Regions from separate parts of the Homo sapiens genome. Here region 1 is linked to region 2. The links come from fine-mapping of genetic effects on gene expression. A gene starts in region 2. The other region holds a variant in brackets. All regions are shown on one strand. Distances are between the middles of the regions.

The links. PIP is the estimated chance that this variant, and not a neighbour inherited with it, causes the effect.
Region 1: its variant is fine-mapped to the expression of CENPO in tibial artery (GTEx, PIP above 0.99).

The regions. Positions count from the first base shown.
Region 1 is chr2:24,856,400-24,864,970 of GRCh38, reverse strand. The region is part of intron 3 of ADCY3 (adenylate cyclase 3); the gene reads left to right. Among named protein-coding and RNA genes, the nearest start is that of ADCY3, 60 kb to the left of the region's middle. The variant A/G (reference allele first, on the strand shown) is at 4,530.
Region 2 is chr2:24,789,093-24,797,613 of GRCh38, reverse strand. CENPO (centromere protein O) reads right to left here and starts at 4,189. Exons shown (of 8, transcript NM_001322101.2): 1 at 4,113-4,189; 2 at 3,649-3,762. The coding sequence starts at 3,694. PTRHD1 (peptidyl-tRNA hydrolase domain containing 1) reads left to right here and starts at 4,223. Exons shown (of 2, transcript NM_001013663.2): 1 at 4,223-4,488; 2 at 7,033-7,886. The coding sequence starts at 4,237. The coding sequence ends at 7,203. It overlaps LOC105369164 (a long non-coding RNA gene), which reads left to right and starts at 4,539. Exons shown (of 3, transcript XR_939843.4): 1 at 4,539-4,847; 2 at 5,030-5,230; 3 at 5,835-7,022. RefSeq lists an enhancer at 4,133-4,562 and a silencer at 6,324-6,403.

The sequences.
Region 1 (8,571 bases), 67 kb before region 2:
TATGTGCAAGTGTATCTGTGGAAGAATAAAAACCTAGAAGTGGAATTGCTGGATCAAAGGACATTTGCATTTTAAAAATTATATATATAGCTACTGTAAAATATACATAGTATAAAATTTACCATTTTAATCATTAAGTATACAATTCAGTGGCATTAAGTGCATTCACAATGTCGTGCAGCCATCACCACTGTCCGTTTCCAGAACTTTTTCATCATCCCAAAGAGAAACTCTGTGCCCATTAAACAATAACTGCCCATTCTCCCAGACTCTGGTAACCACTGTTCTACTGTGTCTCTGAATTTGCCTCTACTAGGTCCTTTATATAAGCGGAATCATGTATTTGTCCCTTTTTGACTGGCTTATTTCACTTAGCATGATGTCTTCAAGGTTCTTCTGTGTCGTCGGGCAGATCAGCATTTCTTTCCCGTTAAGGCTGATATCTCCTTGCATGTATACACCACGTTTTGTTTGTTCATTTGGACATTTGGGTGTTTTCTGCGGCTTTGCTATTGGGAATGGTGCTGCTGTGAACACGGGTGTACAGATATCTGTTTGAGTCCCTGTTTTCAGTTCTTTTGGATATATACCCAAAAGTGGAATTGCCAGGTCATATGGTAGTTCTGTGTTTAATTTTTTGAGGAATCTGGAATGTGCTTTTTTTGTTTTGTTTTGTTTTTTTGAGACAGAGTCTTGCTCTGTCGCCCAGGTTGGAATGCAGTGGTGCGATCTCAGCTCACTGCAGCTTCCGCCTCCGGGTTCAAGCTATTCTCCTGCTTCAGCGTCCCGAGTAGCTGGGATTACAGGTGCCCACCACCACTCCCAGCTAATTTTTCTTGTATTTTTAGTAGAGACGGGGTTTCACCATGTTAGACAGGCTAGTCTCGAACTCCTGACCTCTGGTGATCCGCCTGCCTTGGCCTCCCAAAGTGCTGGGATTACAGGCATGAGCCACCACGTCCGGCCTCCTATAGAGCTTCAAACAATTTATACTCCACCAGCAATGAGTGAGAGTATACTTAGGCACTTAAGTTTTCCTTGTTTATCTAGAAAATACCTCATTGCTTTTGGAAACCCTCCCCAAAGGATTCCTATTTGAAAACCCCAGCCCCAGGGAACCAGCCTCAAGGCAGGAGTGACATCCTGTGGGCTGTTTCCTGCCTTATCCTCATTTGGCTCAAGCCACAGACAGATAAACTCAAGTTTGGAAGAGTTCCTTTGCTTTCTTGGCCTACACTGTGTAATATTTGGCAAGAATATACAATTATAAAGAAATAAAAAAGAGGTTGGCATAGTGGCTCAACGCCTGTAATCCTAACACTTTAGGAGGTTGAGGCAGGAGGATTGCTTGAGGCCAAGAGCTCAAGACCAACCTGGCCAACATAGTGAGACCTCCATCTCTAAAATAAAAGACTGATAGAGGCTGTATTAGGGTTCTCTAGAGGGACAGAACTAATGGAATAGATATCTATGAAGGGGAGTTTATTAAGTTTTGACTCACATGATCACAAGGTCCCACAATAGGCCATCTGCAGGTAAGAGCAAGGAGAGCCTGTCCGAGTTCCAACACTGAAGAACTTCAAGTCCACTGTTGGAGAGCTGGATGCATCCAGCACAGGAGAAAAGTGTAGGCTGTATGGAGGCTAGGCCAGTCTCTCTTTTCACCTTTTTCTGCCTGTTTATATTCTAGCAAACTGGCCACTGATTAGATTGTGCCCACCCAGATTTAGGGTGGGTCTGCCTTTCCCAGCCCACCGACTCAAATGTTAAACTCCTTTGGCAACACCCTCACAGACACACCCAGGATCAATACTTTGTATCCTTCAATCCAATCAAGTTGACACTTAGTATTAACCATCACAGAGGCATATTCCTTCAAGCCTTTTTTTTGGTCCTGATATTTGAGAGTGTCCTAGCCATGTTTTATCCTGATTAAGAGATTATAAATGTAACACCTTCCTCTCACATAGTATAGCAGCTGAGAGCCAAGTACCAGAGTCTCTGCCCCTCTCCTATGGCCTTAGGGGAGATAAGTGTTAAGTAGTTATTGCACAGTGCCTGCACATAGACACTCAAACTCTCTACCATCATATGATTGTTGGATACAATTTTGAAGATATAGAAAAGTAGAAGAGGCCACCAAAACCTCCCTTAATCTGGGACTTTTTTTGAAAAATAATTTTTAAAAATGAATATGGTATTATAAATTAGATATGCAGTTAGAAAAACTCAGGTTTGCTTCATTTTTTTTTCTTTTTTATAGAGCTAAAATGAAACCCCTTGAAAGTGGTTTAGTACACTCACCATGTTGTGCCACCACCACCTCTAGCTAGTTCCGCAACATCTTCCCCCAAAAGAAAACTTGGGACCCGAGCTTGATTTTTATTTGTTTTTATTTTTTTTAATTAATTAATTTTTTTTTTTTGAGGCGGAGTCTCGCTCTGTCCCCGAGGCTGGAGTGCAGTGGCACGATCTCGGCTCACTGCAAGCTCCGCCTTCCGGGTTCACGCCATTCTCCTGCCTCAGCCTCCCGTGTAGCTGGGACTACAGGTGCCCGCCACCATGCCCGGCAAATATTTTGTATTTTTAGTAGAGACGGGGTTTCACCGTGTTAGCCAGGATGGTCTCGATCTCCTGACCTCGTGATCCGCCCACCTCAGCCTCCCAAAGTGCTGGGATTACAGGCGTGAGCCACCGCGCCCGGCTACCGAGATTGATTTTTAAAACCAGATAGAAAGGGACCTGGTGAGCCCTGGGACAGGCCTTGCACGTGAGGACAAGGGACCCAGACCCTAGCACAGTCCCACAGTCCTATGCTCCAGCCTCACCTTGTGGTGGATACCTGTCTGTACTGGGGGTTGGGGAGGGATGACCCCGCTGGTCATCTTGGACCTGGATTTGCATCCACAGCCTCTGCCAGCGTTTTTGGGGGACTGTGAGCCCTGGCTTTCTCTGTGTGGTGTTGGTACTTTACCTCTCTGGTCTTTAGTTTAATTTTCTGAAAATGGGATTAAAAATAATACCATTGTTAGGGGATAGTTTGGGAATCACATGAAATAAGGCAGAGGGGAGTCTAAAAACCATGAAGCCCTTTGGGGCTCCAAGATGCCGTCACGCTGGCCCCCAGCCCCTGGGGAGGCACCGGCTGAAGTCAGGGTGGTGAGGTAGGATGGGAGCTGGCTGGGGCCTGTGCATCCTTCCCCTTCTCTCTTCCAGCCAGGACAGAGGTCACTCCCTCCCAAGGCATTGGGGCTGACGTTGGGAGTGGCGTGGGCTCTGGGCTGATTTGACGTTTCAGAAACATCAGCTGACGGGTCTTCGGAGCTGAGTGCAGGCCGGTACTAGAGGCTGCATGACCCCGTTTCACTTTCCTCCTGTAAAAGCTCCTCATGAGAATAAAAATGAGATAATAGATGGAAAAACACTTTGGAAAGGGCCGCAGACAGTCCTGGTATGAGAGGAAACAGAACCTGGTTTGGAAGTGGCTCCAAAGAGCCATTTGAGGTCAGTGTCAGAGCAGGCCATCCCTTACTTACATGTGTGCTTAATGTCTTTTTTAAGAAAATTCTCCATTTAAAAAAATTATGAGTGTCTCCTATAAAAACAATCGTTAATCTACCCTCTGCAAAAAAGGGGCCTCCTTCCAGAATTGAGTGCCCAGGGTCCATGTCTCACTTTTTATTTGGTCAGGTGCTCTTATCTTTTTTTTTTTTTTTTTTTGAGATGGAGTCTCACTCTTTCGCCCAGGCTGGAGTGCAGTGGCACGATCTTGGCTCACTACAACCTCCACCTCCCAGGTTCAAGCGATTCTCCTGCCTGAGCCTCCCGTGTAGCTGGGACTACAGGTGCCCACCACCACACACAGCTAATTTTTGTATTTCTAGTACAGACGGGGTTTCACCATGTTGGCCAAGCTGGTCTCAAACTCCTGATCTCAAGTGATCTGCCTGCCTTGGCCTCCCAAAGTGCTGGGATTGCAGTCGTGAGCCCCATGCTCGGCTATTTATCTTGTTTTCTAAGCTGCCTTAAGAGTGTGCGGCTGAAGGGCAGCCCTGGCCATGTGGCTGTCCCAGCAGGTGTCTCCTCGCTGGGCCTCAGCTTCCTCCTCTGCTGTGAAGTGAGGTGTAGGGATGCGCTGGTGACCTGAGCCCGCTCTCTCTCTTGCCATCCCCTGGGAAGTTGTACCTTCTGTTATGAAGATGACCAGCCTCCTAATGACAGTCAACTCCCAGATGGGTGGGCAGCCAGCCATGGTCCAGGAGGGTGAGGCGGCACAGTCCCTCAAGCACAGGCATCCCTTTCTGCCTCCTCACTGGGGTGAGCATGTCCACATGTCAAAGGGTGCATTGAGGCAACAGAGCATTTGGGTAATGGCAAGGGTCTCAGATTCCAGTGGCTTTGCTGCTTTAACCTCCCTGGCTCCAGTCTCCTTCAGGGAGGTAGTGGAGCCTGCCCTGCCCTGAGGCCTTGTGGATTTGGAGCTCTTGGTGCAGCCCTGGCATGCGAAGCGTCCTCTTTGCCTCTGCCGA[A/G]CACATATCTGGCTTCGCAGGCAGTGCCATGGCGCTTCCCTGTGGTGCGGGGCCGCCAGGGTGCATGCTGACCTTGGTCCAGCCTCCCGGCTCTGTGGGCATGTGAGGGTAGAGCAGGAGGCCCAGAGGACAGAACTGGAGTTGTTTGTCTTTATTCCCATGTGACCACACTTCAGGGGTTAGTTGGGGACCTTGAGGGTTGCTAAGCACCCCAGCCGCCACCTGGCAACAGGCGGCACCCAGAAAACCCACTCAGCACACACCTGCTGCCAGGTGGAGCTACAAAACTGAGCCTCTCTGAATCATACTCAGAATCACTTCCCAGGGATCGGAACATGGTTGACGGAGGATGTGGGAAGATGGAGGGATGACAGGGGCAGGCCTATGCTTCCTTCACACGCGTCCTGTGTGGTTAACTGGCCCTGTGCCTGGTCCTCCCTCGGAGGTGAGGACTGTCCACAGTGCCCACCCTCAGACAGGAGGATGCTGCAGCCAGGGCACGTAGAGGGAGAGCCCAGGGCAGACTGCACAGGGTCTAGGGTAGAAAGCCATCCCCATCTTCACCCTTGGGATCCTGGGGAGACAGCTGAGGTGGACGCTGGGTGGGTTTCCATTCAGGTCTTGGGGGACTGCACAGAGACACAGCTGCCTCTCCCCACCTCTCCTTCTGCTTTAACCCACGTGCAGGGTCACCTGTTACTAGGGATGGTGTTTTTCCTTCATGCCGGTCTTACAGGGAAGAACCGCCCATTGACCACAAGCGTCAGGCCCCTCTCCTGGGAGCCCCGGAGCTTGGGACACTGGGAGGCTGCCATTTCCTAAGCTTGGATTGTATCTCTTGCTTTTCTGAATGTTCTTCCTCTGTAACCTTTGCCCAAGCCTGGTCACTGTTTCCCCCAAGACCTTTTGCTATTAGGACAAGGTGTCATCAACCCTGAGCCCTGTTCTTATAGGCGCTTGGTAGGGGAGAGGGGAGTCAGAGCCAGAGGCCAGTTGCCTCTTGGCCTGGGGTTGGGCTTCTAGTGCCAAGCCCCACCATGCCACTGTTATCCTGGCAACAGTGAGGTCGGGGCAGGGGGACCACTAAGAGTGGGAAGAGGAGACGAAGCTGGTGTCGAGTGGGAGGGCTGTGCCTCTGCCTGTGGATCCATAGCTGCTCTGCGTCTTGCTCGTTGCACCGTGGCTGCATCATGGCATTCTCCGCGTCTAATGTAATGGGTCAAATCCATTGTCTGCTTCACAGGAGACACACAGACACGTCCCCACCCCCAGCATCAGCCTTGCATTGTACTCGCTATCTTCTTCACAGAACCACCCACAAAGATATCTAATATTTTTAGTTTTTCTTTTAGCCTCGAATGCCTCTCAGTGTGAGAAAAGCCAGGTGCGTTCCCCATAATGCGAAGTAGGCACTGGTCCTTCTGTTGGTTCCAACTCTCACCTCTTGGATGTCACAGAATGCTCTTCATTTCAACATTCCAGGACTTAGCAAAACAAATCCACATTTCAGATAATGCAGATGATGAACCCATAGAAAACAGGTTGTCCTAAAGCAGTGGTGGGTTCCTGGTGGCAGTGGGAGGATGTTGGCTGTGTCAGGGTGGACCTGAGCAGAGCTGGTGAGGACAGTCCTGCTGACGGCCCATGCATGGGCTGTGTGGCCTCTGAGCTGGGCTCTGCTGGGCTGTGGCAGGTCTTAAGCCTTTGCCACATCCTCCAGCAGAATTTTTCTCCAAACAGTTGTAGAATTGCTGGAGAACTGTAGAGTTGTAGAATTGTAGAATTGTGCATTGTGGCCAGGGTTGTGGCGCATTTTATATTTATCTGGCTGTAAGAATGAAGTTTTGTTAGTAATGAGTGTAGTTTTATTGAACATTTATTTTGTGCCAGGCCCTGGATGGTGTTTTCATTGGATTATTTCATTTAATAATGAGATCTCTCATTTACCAGCTGGCACTTCCTCCTGGCTCTATTTGGGAGATCTGTTAATTAACAGGAAGAATCAGTTAGGTAGTCCTTGGACCACAGCTGGCCTGTGGGTATCTGTTTTGTTTGACCTTCCCAGAGTGTTAACATTTTCTAATACTTAAACATTTGTACATTCTGGATAAAAACCTGGATTTTTGACTCACTTAGAAAATGGAAAGATCTGTCAACAAAGGTTGCAAGTAAGACTTGCATTCACATTCTAACTGGGTCACTGAGCCCCTCTTGAGCCCAGGAGTCCAACACCAGACATGGCAAGACCTTATCTCTACAAAAAAACTTAAAAAAAATCCAGGCATGGTGGTGGTGCGCACCTGTAGTCCCAGCTACTTGGGAGGCTGAGGCGGGAGGATCACCTGAGCCCAGCAAGATCAGTGTGCAGTGAGCTGTGACTACACTTCAGCACTCCAGCCTGGGAGACAGCGGGACCCTGTCTCTTTAAAAAAAAAAAAAAAAAAAAAAAATTCAGACCACAAGTATTTCAGGACTTTTCTAGGCACTGGGGATACAGTTGTGAGCAGAACAGATTCTAGTGTGGGCAACACACATTAAACAGACGAGTATGTGCTATGTCAGGAGCTGGGAAGGGCTGTGGAGAGAAAGCAGAGGACGGAGCTTAGGGAGTGCCGTGGGTAAAGGTGGAAATTTTGTCGGTATAATTTTCTTGGGCCTTTATGCCCAGGGTGGTACTGAGTTGCTGCATCTGGGTCAAGGAGAGAATGCAAAGGGTCTGCTTTCCGCCAGTCACAGATACGAACCCTCCGCATCCTTCTCAACACAGGGCTCGAGGCAGCTGCTCTCTGCCCATCAGAGTTGGCACAGTACTTGTGACTACAGTGTTCTAGAGCTGCAATAGGTAGCAGTATGGTAGCCACTTGTCATATGTAGCTATTTAAATTAAACTTAATTAATTAGAAAATGTTAGTCTTTCAGTAGCACTAGCCACATTTCATGTGCTCAGTAGCTAAATGTGGCTGCCATATTGGACAGCAAAGATACAGAACATTTCTGTGATTGCAGGAAGTTCTATTAGCGCTGTTCTAGAGGATGGTGGCTTGCCCCTTGGGCCAGGTCTCCTAGTTGACAGCTCGTTAACTCTTCAAACCTCTAAGGAGTAGTACCTGCTCTTTGCCAAATAATTCGTGGTGAGGGCTCCAGGTACCACACACGTGGCCATCTTTGGGCCCAGTGGGCTGTCTCCTGAGACTGCAGTCACCTTGGCCTACACGGTGGCCCCTGTCTCTGGGGACTGCACAGGAGACCAGGCCAGTGACCAGAAGTCCCACATGTTCGGTGTCCCCTCTCCTGCTCTGGCAGGGTAAGAGCTCTGGGCTGACCCTGGGTCTGTGTGATTTCCGCACTGTTCCAGATGACATGGCCTGGTGGCTTGTTAGTCTGGCCCCGCCAACACTGAGATTAAATGTGGCCCTGCTTCTCTTGGGGCCTGTTGATCTGGGGACTCTGGGGACACTGGTCTGGTGCCTGTTCTCATGCTGGAGGCCTTGTTTCCAAATATGCTGACTTTTACAGTTATGCAGCTCCTCCCTCCTCTACGTTCCTACAGCATTTGGCTGAAGACTGTGAAGCACTCCTGCCCTGGGAGACCAGTCTCTCCCACGTGTGACCATTGCCCCACCCATCCAAGCTCTTTGGAGTACTGTTTACCTTTGACCTTCCCAGCATTTAGCTCAGGGACATGCATAGATGACCAGTGACTGTCCTTCGAGTGACTGAGGTGGGGAACACATCTCTTGGGCAGGGGCAGCACACGTGGGCCCCCTAGTCTAAATGGCGGCAGTATTGGAGTTTCCAGATTTCACACATTGTGGTACTTCGTCCCCTCATCCGGGAGAGGTGAGCTGTTTGGGCTCTGGCCTCCCAAGGTTACTAGGCCTGGTCCTTCTCTCCATTCCCTGCCTCCCACAGCCCCCTCTGCTTAGGTAGTCAGGCCATGATGGACGCCCTGGTGGGGTGCAGTGACTTTTTGGCTTCCAAATTGGCTGGACACTCTAAGAATCTGGATTAATCGGGACCAAGACAGACTGGTTTGTGAAAC
Region 2 (8,521 bases):
TTTTGTGACACTTACATTTTACCTCTCTGACCCCACTTTCTGCTTTGAAGGCTCCTACTCTCCTCCTTGACCATTAAATGCTGAAATTTTCCAGAGCTCAGTCCTAAGACCTCTTCTTTCCAGAAGAAATCTCATCAGTACCCACAGCCTTAATGGCCATACATGTCGATGCCACACAAATATGTATCTCTAGCTTATACCTCTCTCCTGCTTCTTGAGAAAGCAGAATATCCACCTGCCTTCTCAGTGTATCTACTTGGAAGACTTACAGGAACCTGACAATCAACATGTCCAAGACTGAATTCATCATCTCCCCTTCTAAACCCCTCCATGACTGGAACCATTATCCATCTATAGCTGTGTAAACCAGTACTTTCTTCCTCACACCTTCTCCCTGACCCAGTCCCAATCCATTACCAGATCCTATTGAATATACATTCCTAGTATCTCTAAAATATTTCCATTTTCCCCATCTGCAATGCCACCATTGTAGTTCAAGCTACTACCATTTCTGGCCTATTACAAGTTTCCTAGGTGGCCCATACACTGAAGCCATATTTCAAAATCTAAACTGGATCGTGTCATCCAGCTGGCTAAAGCCTTTCGATGACTTCACACTGCCTACGAGGCCTACTGGCCTCTGGATCTCTCTTACCCTCATCAGTATCATGCTGCTCCTTCTCTAGGCATTTCCACACAGGCCTCCTCTCAGGCTCTCAAACCCGCCCAGCGTCTTTACTGACCTGATCCCCCCACCCCCAACACACACACCAAAGGCTCTTCCACAGCCGCCCCTTATCCACCTTCACCTGCAGCTACTCTAGCTCGTTAGCACTCAATGCAAGCAGCATTTCCTCAGGGAAACCTTTGTAGCACCTTCAGAACAAGGTCAGGTGCCAGCTCATAAGCTCTCAAAGATCCTTCTGAGACAATACTATAGTTTTTTTGTTTTTGTTTTTTAAATAAAGAGATGGGGTCTCACTATGTTTCCCAGGCTGGTCTCAAACTCCTAAGCTCAAGCGATCCTCCCACCTCGGCTTCCCAAAGTGCTAGGATTACAGGCGTGAGCCACCGCACCCGGCCACTATAGTTTTAATTGTATATTCATTAGTGTGATTATTTGATTTGCTTATCTTTTCCACTGAACCTTAAAGTTCCAAAATCAGGGACCGTGTGCATTTGTGTTCACCCATGGATCCCTTAACCCTAGCACAAAGTGTTTACACATGGTAAACACTCCGGAAATGGTTATTTTTTTCTGAGACGAAATCTCACTCTGTTGCCCAAGCTGGAGTGCAGTGGCGCGATCTCAGCTCACTGCAACCTCTACCTCCCAGGTTCAAGCAATTCTCCTGCTTCAGCCTCCCAATTAGCTGGGACTACAGGCATGCACCACGATGCCCGGCTAATTTTTGTATTTTTAGTAGAGATGGGGTTTCACTATGTTAGCCAGACTGGTCTTGAACTCCTGACCTTGTGATCCACCCGCTTTGGCCTCCCAAAGTGCTGGGATTACAGGTGTGAGCCACCGCGCCCGGCCAACACTCCGGAAATGTTTACCGAAACACGGACAACCAGGCATGACACTCTTGGAGATTACATTCACTTGGCTCATGTCCACAGAAAAACCCACATTACCGCAATAATAATCGTGAGAAACCAAAATTCTAATTAAATAAATTAGTCCTAATAATTAGCACGTGATTAACTGCTTTATTCACCAATCTCTATTTATCCAACAACTATGCATTGAGAATTTACTATGGACCAAGGACCGTGCTGGAAGTTATTCATACTGTGGTGGCAAAACGAAGTCCCTGTCCTCACGGAGCTTACAAAAATTAATGTCCAACCAGGAGGTGATCTGAAAAGCACGCACACATAGAATAATTTAGGGTGGTAGAGGAGACGCCTCACCAAATTCTACTTTATGGAAATTCTATATTACTAAAACAGTAGATATCAATATTCCCAAAGTTTCTGAGATAAGTAGGTGTTCAAAACAGTATCATGCTGCTCCTTCTCTAGGCACTTCCACACAGCCCTCTTCTCAGGCTCTCAAACCTGCCCAGCTTCTTTACCGACCTGATTCCCTCTACACCAAGGGGGTAGCGTTGTTGTTTAGCGTTGCTACTACAGAAAAGAGGGAGTGTATCTGCTGGGCCTGCTTTACCTTGGAAGTTATGATTGCATCTCATCCTAGCCAGTCAGCTTTGTCCCAAAAAAAGTCAAAATCCCTGCCTATTTGAATAAATCATCTGGTTGCAACTACAACTCCATGTCCTTCCTTCTCAAATGAGTGGGGAGAATTCAAATAATAAGCAAAAAACTGAAATCAAACAAGCAGAGGGATAAAACCAGTATGGGTAACAGCTAAGTGTTTAAATATTGTTTTGGGTAGAGAATAAGGAGACTGGTCTAAGTCTCTTGATAATCCAAAACTTCCACCTCATCACTTACTTTAACAGAAATGAAATAAGGCCTGGACTAGAGAACAGGTTACTCCTGAGTGTAGCATGTTTCCACTACATAAAGTCACCAAACTTATTTTTAGTCTTAAAGTAACAATAAATCTTACCCCATATACTTTTATTATCTAAAGTCTCAGCTTAAGTCATCTTAGGCTGAATATAGTTACTTCTCTGTTATCAATGATAATGATGACCCAGAGAAAAATAGGATAACCAAATTCACTGACGCGCTCAGAAATTCTTTTTAAAACTGTAATTTAAGTTAGGTTTTATGGCAAGCTTTCCCAAAGTACTAACGTAGAACCCTTTGGATTTAGGCATCAGGCTTGAGTAAGTATTTCAAAGTTCTAAAAAGTATTAGTAGCAAAGAACATAAAGTCACACAAAACCAGAACTGTCCACAAATATTACTAGGCACTAAAGAAGAAAGCAACTTACTCCTGGACAGAAATTCAAACGCAAATCTCAGTTTCCAAAGGATTGACTAAGGACTAAGTAAAAGTAATAGTTTCGTAATTCTAAGCAACTCTAACAAGCATTCTTTAAACACCTTCTACATTTTAAGACACAAAGTATGTAAAGAATTAAGCCTTTCATTGAATATTTCCTATATATTAGACATGTGCTAAATGCTTCACTTGAAAAGTCTGAGTTCAATACTTTTCCACCACAAAAGAAATACTTTTTCCACAACCACAACTACAGTGCTATTTTCACCTCCATTTTCCAGATGAAGAAACAGAGGCAGAGAATAAAGTGACTTGCCTAAGGTCACAATATTTATCATGGCAGAGCCAACACTCAAAACCAGTTCTAGCCAACACTAAAGTCACTGCCCTACACTGGCCCTCCCTCAAGAGTAATGCATACATGGCCCAAAAAATCCGGGGAGAGGAAAGGGACCTCCCTGGCTAGAACCGCAGTTCAGAATATAAACACTGAGCATATGATGGATGCAACTTATCCGTTTCAAAAGGGGTGGGAGCCTAGAAACGAAGCCATTTTTCCTCCTCGAATAATCTTGGCTGCCTGTCCCTTTGTCTTCAATGTTAGTTCCTTTCACTATTCTGCTCCCAAACAGGCCAGGTCCCACGTCAGTTCCAGGAGGAAAGGGCTCTCTCAGCCTGCGGGTCATCTTTGGGCAGCAGCAGGAAGGAGGCGGCGACCCTCTGAATACCTCCTTTGGACTCGCCATCTGGACGTAAAGGGTTCGCCTGCTCCATCTCAGATTCCCAAGGGCCTTCCCATGAAGTTGTCTAGGCAACCGGTGATAGGGACTCCAATGTCCTTGCTAATAAAAGAAAAATGGCAACAGTCACATCACATCTAGTCCCATTCAAACCCAGACGGCAGGGCACACACCACTCAGGCACAACCCCTGGGCCGCGGATGACACAAATGTCACGGCTAGGATCCCCTTTCCTGAGCCGCCCGCCCTCTCCCATCGTCCGAGCCAGCAGAGTCCATGCCCACCCCCGCGCCCATCCCGCGGCCCCGGCGCGCTCCCGAGGCCACGGCTACTCTGGTCCAGCGGGCTTCCCGGCCACGGAAGGAGTTTTAAGAAGGCCGTTCAGCCCGCCACCCTGGCCACGGTCCGGTCCGACAATGGGTCTTTCCCCTACCTTCTCCCTTCTAGCTCACCCAGGCCAGAAGCGAGAATTCCCGCCATCCACGTCTTCAAAACCAAACCAACCGGTCCCGGCGTGCTTTGCGATCCTGCCGTACAAAAGCATGGCGGCGCTCAGGGCCCCGCCCTGATCCCAAGATGCACCGGGGAGTAGGTCCGGCCTTTCGGGTGGTCAGGAAGATGGCGGCCTCTGGGGCGGAGCCGCAGGTCCTGGTACAATACTTGGTGTTACGAAAGGATCTATCACAAGCTCCGTTCTCCTGGCCGGCGGGCGCACTGGTAGCGCAGGCTTGTCACGCGGCCACCGCGGCCTTGCACACTCACCGCGACCACCCGCACACAGCCGCTTACCTCCAAGAGCTGGGGCGCATGCGCAAAGTGGTCCTCGAGGTGAGGCACTCGGGCGGAGGGGGAGGTGCTGAGACATCGAGGGCGGAAGTGGGTGTGGTCTTCGGTCCGAAGGCCTGGCTGCGGGGAGTGGGTGCGGCGGGAGTTGGGGTGATCGTTAACATTTAGACTGGAGCTGTTTCCCTGGAGGTGCGCCCTTGGGAAGGGCCTGACTGTGTGAAGAGTGGACAGCAGTCCTCCGCCCCCTGCTGGGCTCGCGGTAAAGTGGTGGCTCCTGTGTCCCCGCTGTTCCGCCTGTGCACTGGCCGACTTTTTAAAGCCATGCCCCAAAGTGCTGTCCTCCTGCAAAACCGAGCCCGAAGGGACAGTGCAAAGTGAAGTCAAACTGAGTATTTACCTGGGTAGGACGCCAAATTATTTGAAAATAAATACTAAAAACGTTAGTATAAATTGAACCTAGCTTCAGCTAGACCAGGCACCAGGTGTGTAAATCGGTACACCTTTTAAAATAGCAGTCAGGTTCTGTTTGCAGATGACCAAACAAATCTCACCCTTACCCTTTGACTCTCTATCCTGCTGCTAGAGATGTAGCCTAAGAAAATAATCAGATGCACCCAAAGAGCTTTGCACAAGGATATTCATGGGAGCCCTTATGGTTTTGAAGCATATTTAGTGGTCGGGAAGAGTGCTCATGATGCGAAGCTAACTGAACTATATATACAGAATGATCCAGACTTTGAAAGGAAAAACTAAAGAAATACATCTACATATTAAGTAGTGCATGGTGAGATTTTGGTTATTTCCTAATGCTTAATCTGTATTTTTAAAATTTTCTACCTTAAGCACATATTTTATAATAAGGAAAAACGGCTTTAATAATAAACGGCTTTTTATAATAAGGAAAAACGGCTTTAAGCCAGAACTCAGGTGGAGGGGTGGAGTAATCCCTTCATGGGTAACTGACAAAGATAGATTATCTTTCAAGAGAAAAATTGCTGCTGGATAGTGAAACATCAAGCGGTAACCTGTAGGAAAAATGCCTTGAGAATCTGTGTAGGCAGAACAGAAGCTGCTGGCTTTTCACTTAGATTTTCTTCCTAGTAAGAGGTCTCAAGAAATCAGGTTAGACTCCTCTTGTCGCAGGTGAAACTCTCTGAAGCCTACAGGGATTAAGTGACTCCCCTGAGTTTAAAAGAGGGTCTCATGATTCTTAGTTGTTAGTCATGACTCAAGAAAGGGACTTAGGAGTCGCTACTGATTACATTGAGGTGCCGCTGTAGTCAGAAGGGCCAATAAAATATAAGAAAATACCAGGATTAACTACATTTATTGAGTGCTTAGTGTGTGCCAGGCACAGGTCCAAGCCTGATTTCATTGATCCCCATTAGGAAGCATTATTCCTGTTTTATAAAGGGACGAAGAGGCCAGCGAAGTCACCTAACTTATCCACGATCACACAGTCAGCAAGAGTTTGGAGTCCAGTAGTCTGATTCCAGAGCCTCACTGTATCTCACTATGCTCTGCTGCTGCCCGAGGCTGAAGAAGCTGATGAGTCCTCCAGCAGAGCTCTGCCAGAAGGACTCAGCAGGTTAAGAGTCGCAATACTGGCATTCTCTAATTTATTAAAACAAGCCTCTGAGTAGCTTAGTGGCTTCTGCCTTCATAGGTAAGAGATAAACTTTATGCAAAATAACACAAAAATAATAATTTTCTGAGTGATCGTTTTAATACTTCCTGGAATGGGATTCAGCATGGGTGAATTGGCAGTAAGGATGACCCAGAAACAATTTCAGAAGGATGTTAGAGAATATTGTACTCTCCCTTTAATAAACAAGTGGGAGCCATCCCAGCAGAAGGAAAACCCCTCTAGGTTTCAGTGAGGTAGAGTGGGAGGGGTGGAGGAAAGTGGAAGTGGATGTGCTTTTAGAAATCCTTCCACTAGGGGCCGGGCATGGTGGCTCACTCCTGTAATCCTAGCACTTTGGGAGGCTTAGGTGGGTGGATTGCTTGAGGTCAGGAGCTCCAGACCAGCCTGGGCAACATGGTGAAACCCCGTCTCTACTAAAAATACAAAAATTAGCCAGGTGTAGTGGTGTGCGCCTGTAATCCCAGCTACTCGGGAGGCTGAGGCAGGAGAATTGCTTGAACTCGGGAGCCAGAGACTGCAGTGAGCTGATAATCGTGCCACTGCACTCTAGCCCAGGCGACAGAGCAAGACTCTGTCTCAAAAGAAAAAAAAAAAAAAACTTCCACTAGGCAGCTCTTAAAGTCAGAGGCACTTAAAATTATGGGCGCCAGCCATAGGAGAGCTGGAAAATGTATAGAGCAGAATTACACATTACACATGTGTGTGTTGGGCATACAACATCTCACAAGGGAAGATACAAATCTCCATTTTCTAAACTGGAATATGAAGCCTCTCTCCCCTCCCCAGTGCACCACGGAATGACATCATTGCTCTGCAGCTCCCTCCTTGGTAAAGCTGTTACTCCACTTTCAGGCAAGAGGACTCCCGAAACCTTTTTTGGCCTTTTGACACTTCCTAAGTGGGCTATTCAGTTTGTGTTCTGTGTTCTTCTCCTTTAGGCCCCAGATGAGACCACCCTAAAGGAGCTGGCCGAGACCCTGCAACAGAAGAACATTGACCACATGCTGTGGCTTGAGCAACCAGAGAATATCGCCACTTGTATTGCTCTCCGGCCCTACCCCAAGGAAGAAGTGGGCCAGTATTTGAAGAAGTTCCGATTGTTCAAGTAACTGCTGCTTTGATGTGTTTGAATACGCAGGCCACCCATTCCAAAGCATCATGTGTTCCTTGCAGTGTCAGCTTGCTCCCGTCTTTCAGTTGTGACAATTTCTTGAGGGTTAAGCACATGTTCATATTAAAGTTGTCATTAATAACTACTTCCTCTTATTAATAAGTTCAAGTGGGGAAGGTGGGAGAGCAGTATTGTCTGGGGATCATTGCTCAAATAGAAGATTTGGTTAGACTCTCCTGTGGGGCTCAAGGAAACTCCCTTCCAGTCACTCGGGTTTGAAACTTTGCTTTTGAATTCCTTCTTATTCACATCCAGTTATCATATTTCATTGAATCTAAGATAACATCAACTTTAAGATGCGGTAGTATTTTATGTATTGTTAAAAAATATGCCGGCAAATTAAACACTTGTATTTCAATAACAAAGATGTTAAAATTTGGCCAGTGTGGTGGCTCACATCTGTTAATTCCAGGGTTTTGGGAAGCCAAGGCAGGAGGATCGCTTGAGCCCATGAGTTCAAGGTTACAGTCAGTTCTAATCATGCCACCGCACTCCAGCCTGGGCAACAGAGTGAGACACTGTCTCTATAAAGATTAATAACAAGTTAAAATTTGTGTGTGTCTATATATATGTACATACATACAGATTTATTAGATTCAATGAAATCTGTCAAGTACTACAGCTGTTTTCTTGTCATTTCAGTGCCGTTGCCCTGTGTCAGCCTCTCATTTTGCTCACTGGCGTGTCCCACGGTCTGTTCACCGCCAGTGTGACACTCCAATCCAGCAGCTGCTTTGCCACCACATAGGACGACTGAACACCTACCTGTGTAGTCTAGGCTCCTCTCTGCCTATGGAGTAATCCCAGCACTCCTTAGCTTAGACTTCAGGCCCTCCTCATGTGTATTTCCTACCTATCTTTTTTGTTTTTTCGAGATGGAGTCTCTCTCTGTTGCCCAGGCTGGAGTGCAGTGGCGCCATCTCTGCTCACTGCAACCTGCGCCTCCTGGGTTCAAGCCATTCTCCTGCCTCAGCCTCCCGAGTAGCTGGGATTACAGGTGCATGCCACCATAGCTGGCTAATTTTTGTGTTTTTTTAGTAGAGACGGGGTTTCACCATGTTGGCCAAGCTGGTCTCCAATTCCTGACCTCAGGTGATCCGCCAGCCTCGGACTCCCAAAGTGCTGGGATTACAGGTGTGAGCTACCGTGCCCGGCCTCCTACTTATCTTTTTAGTTGAATCTTCTATTCCCTTATTCAAACTTGATGTTTCCACAGAGTCCCTCCAGTTGCTATTCTCCAGTCTCTGGCATGGGAG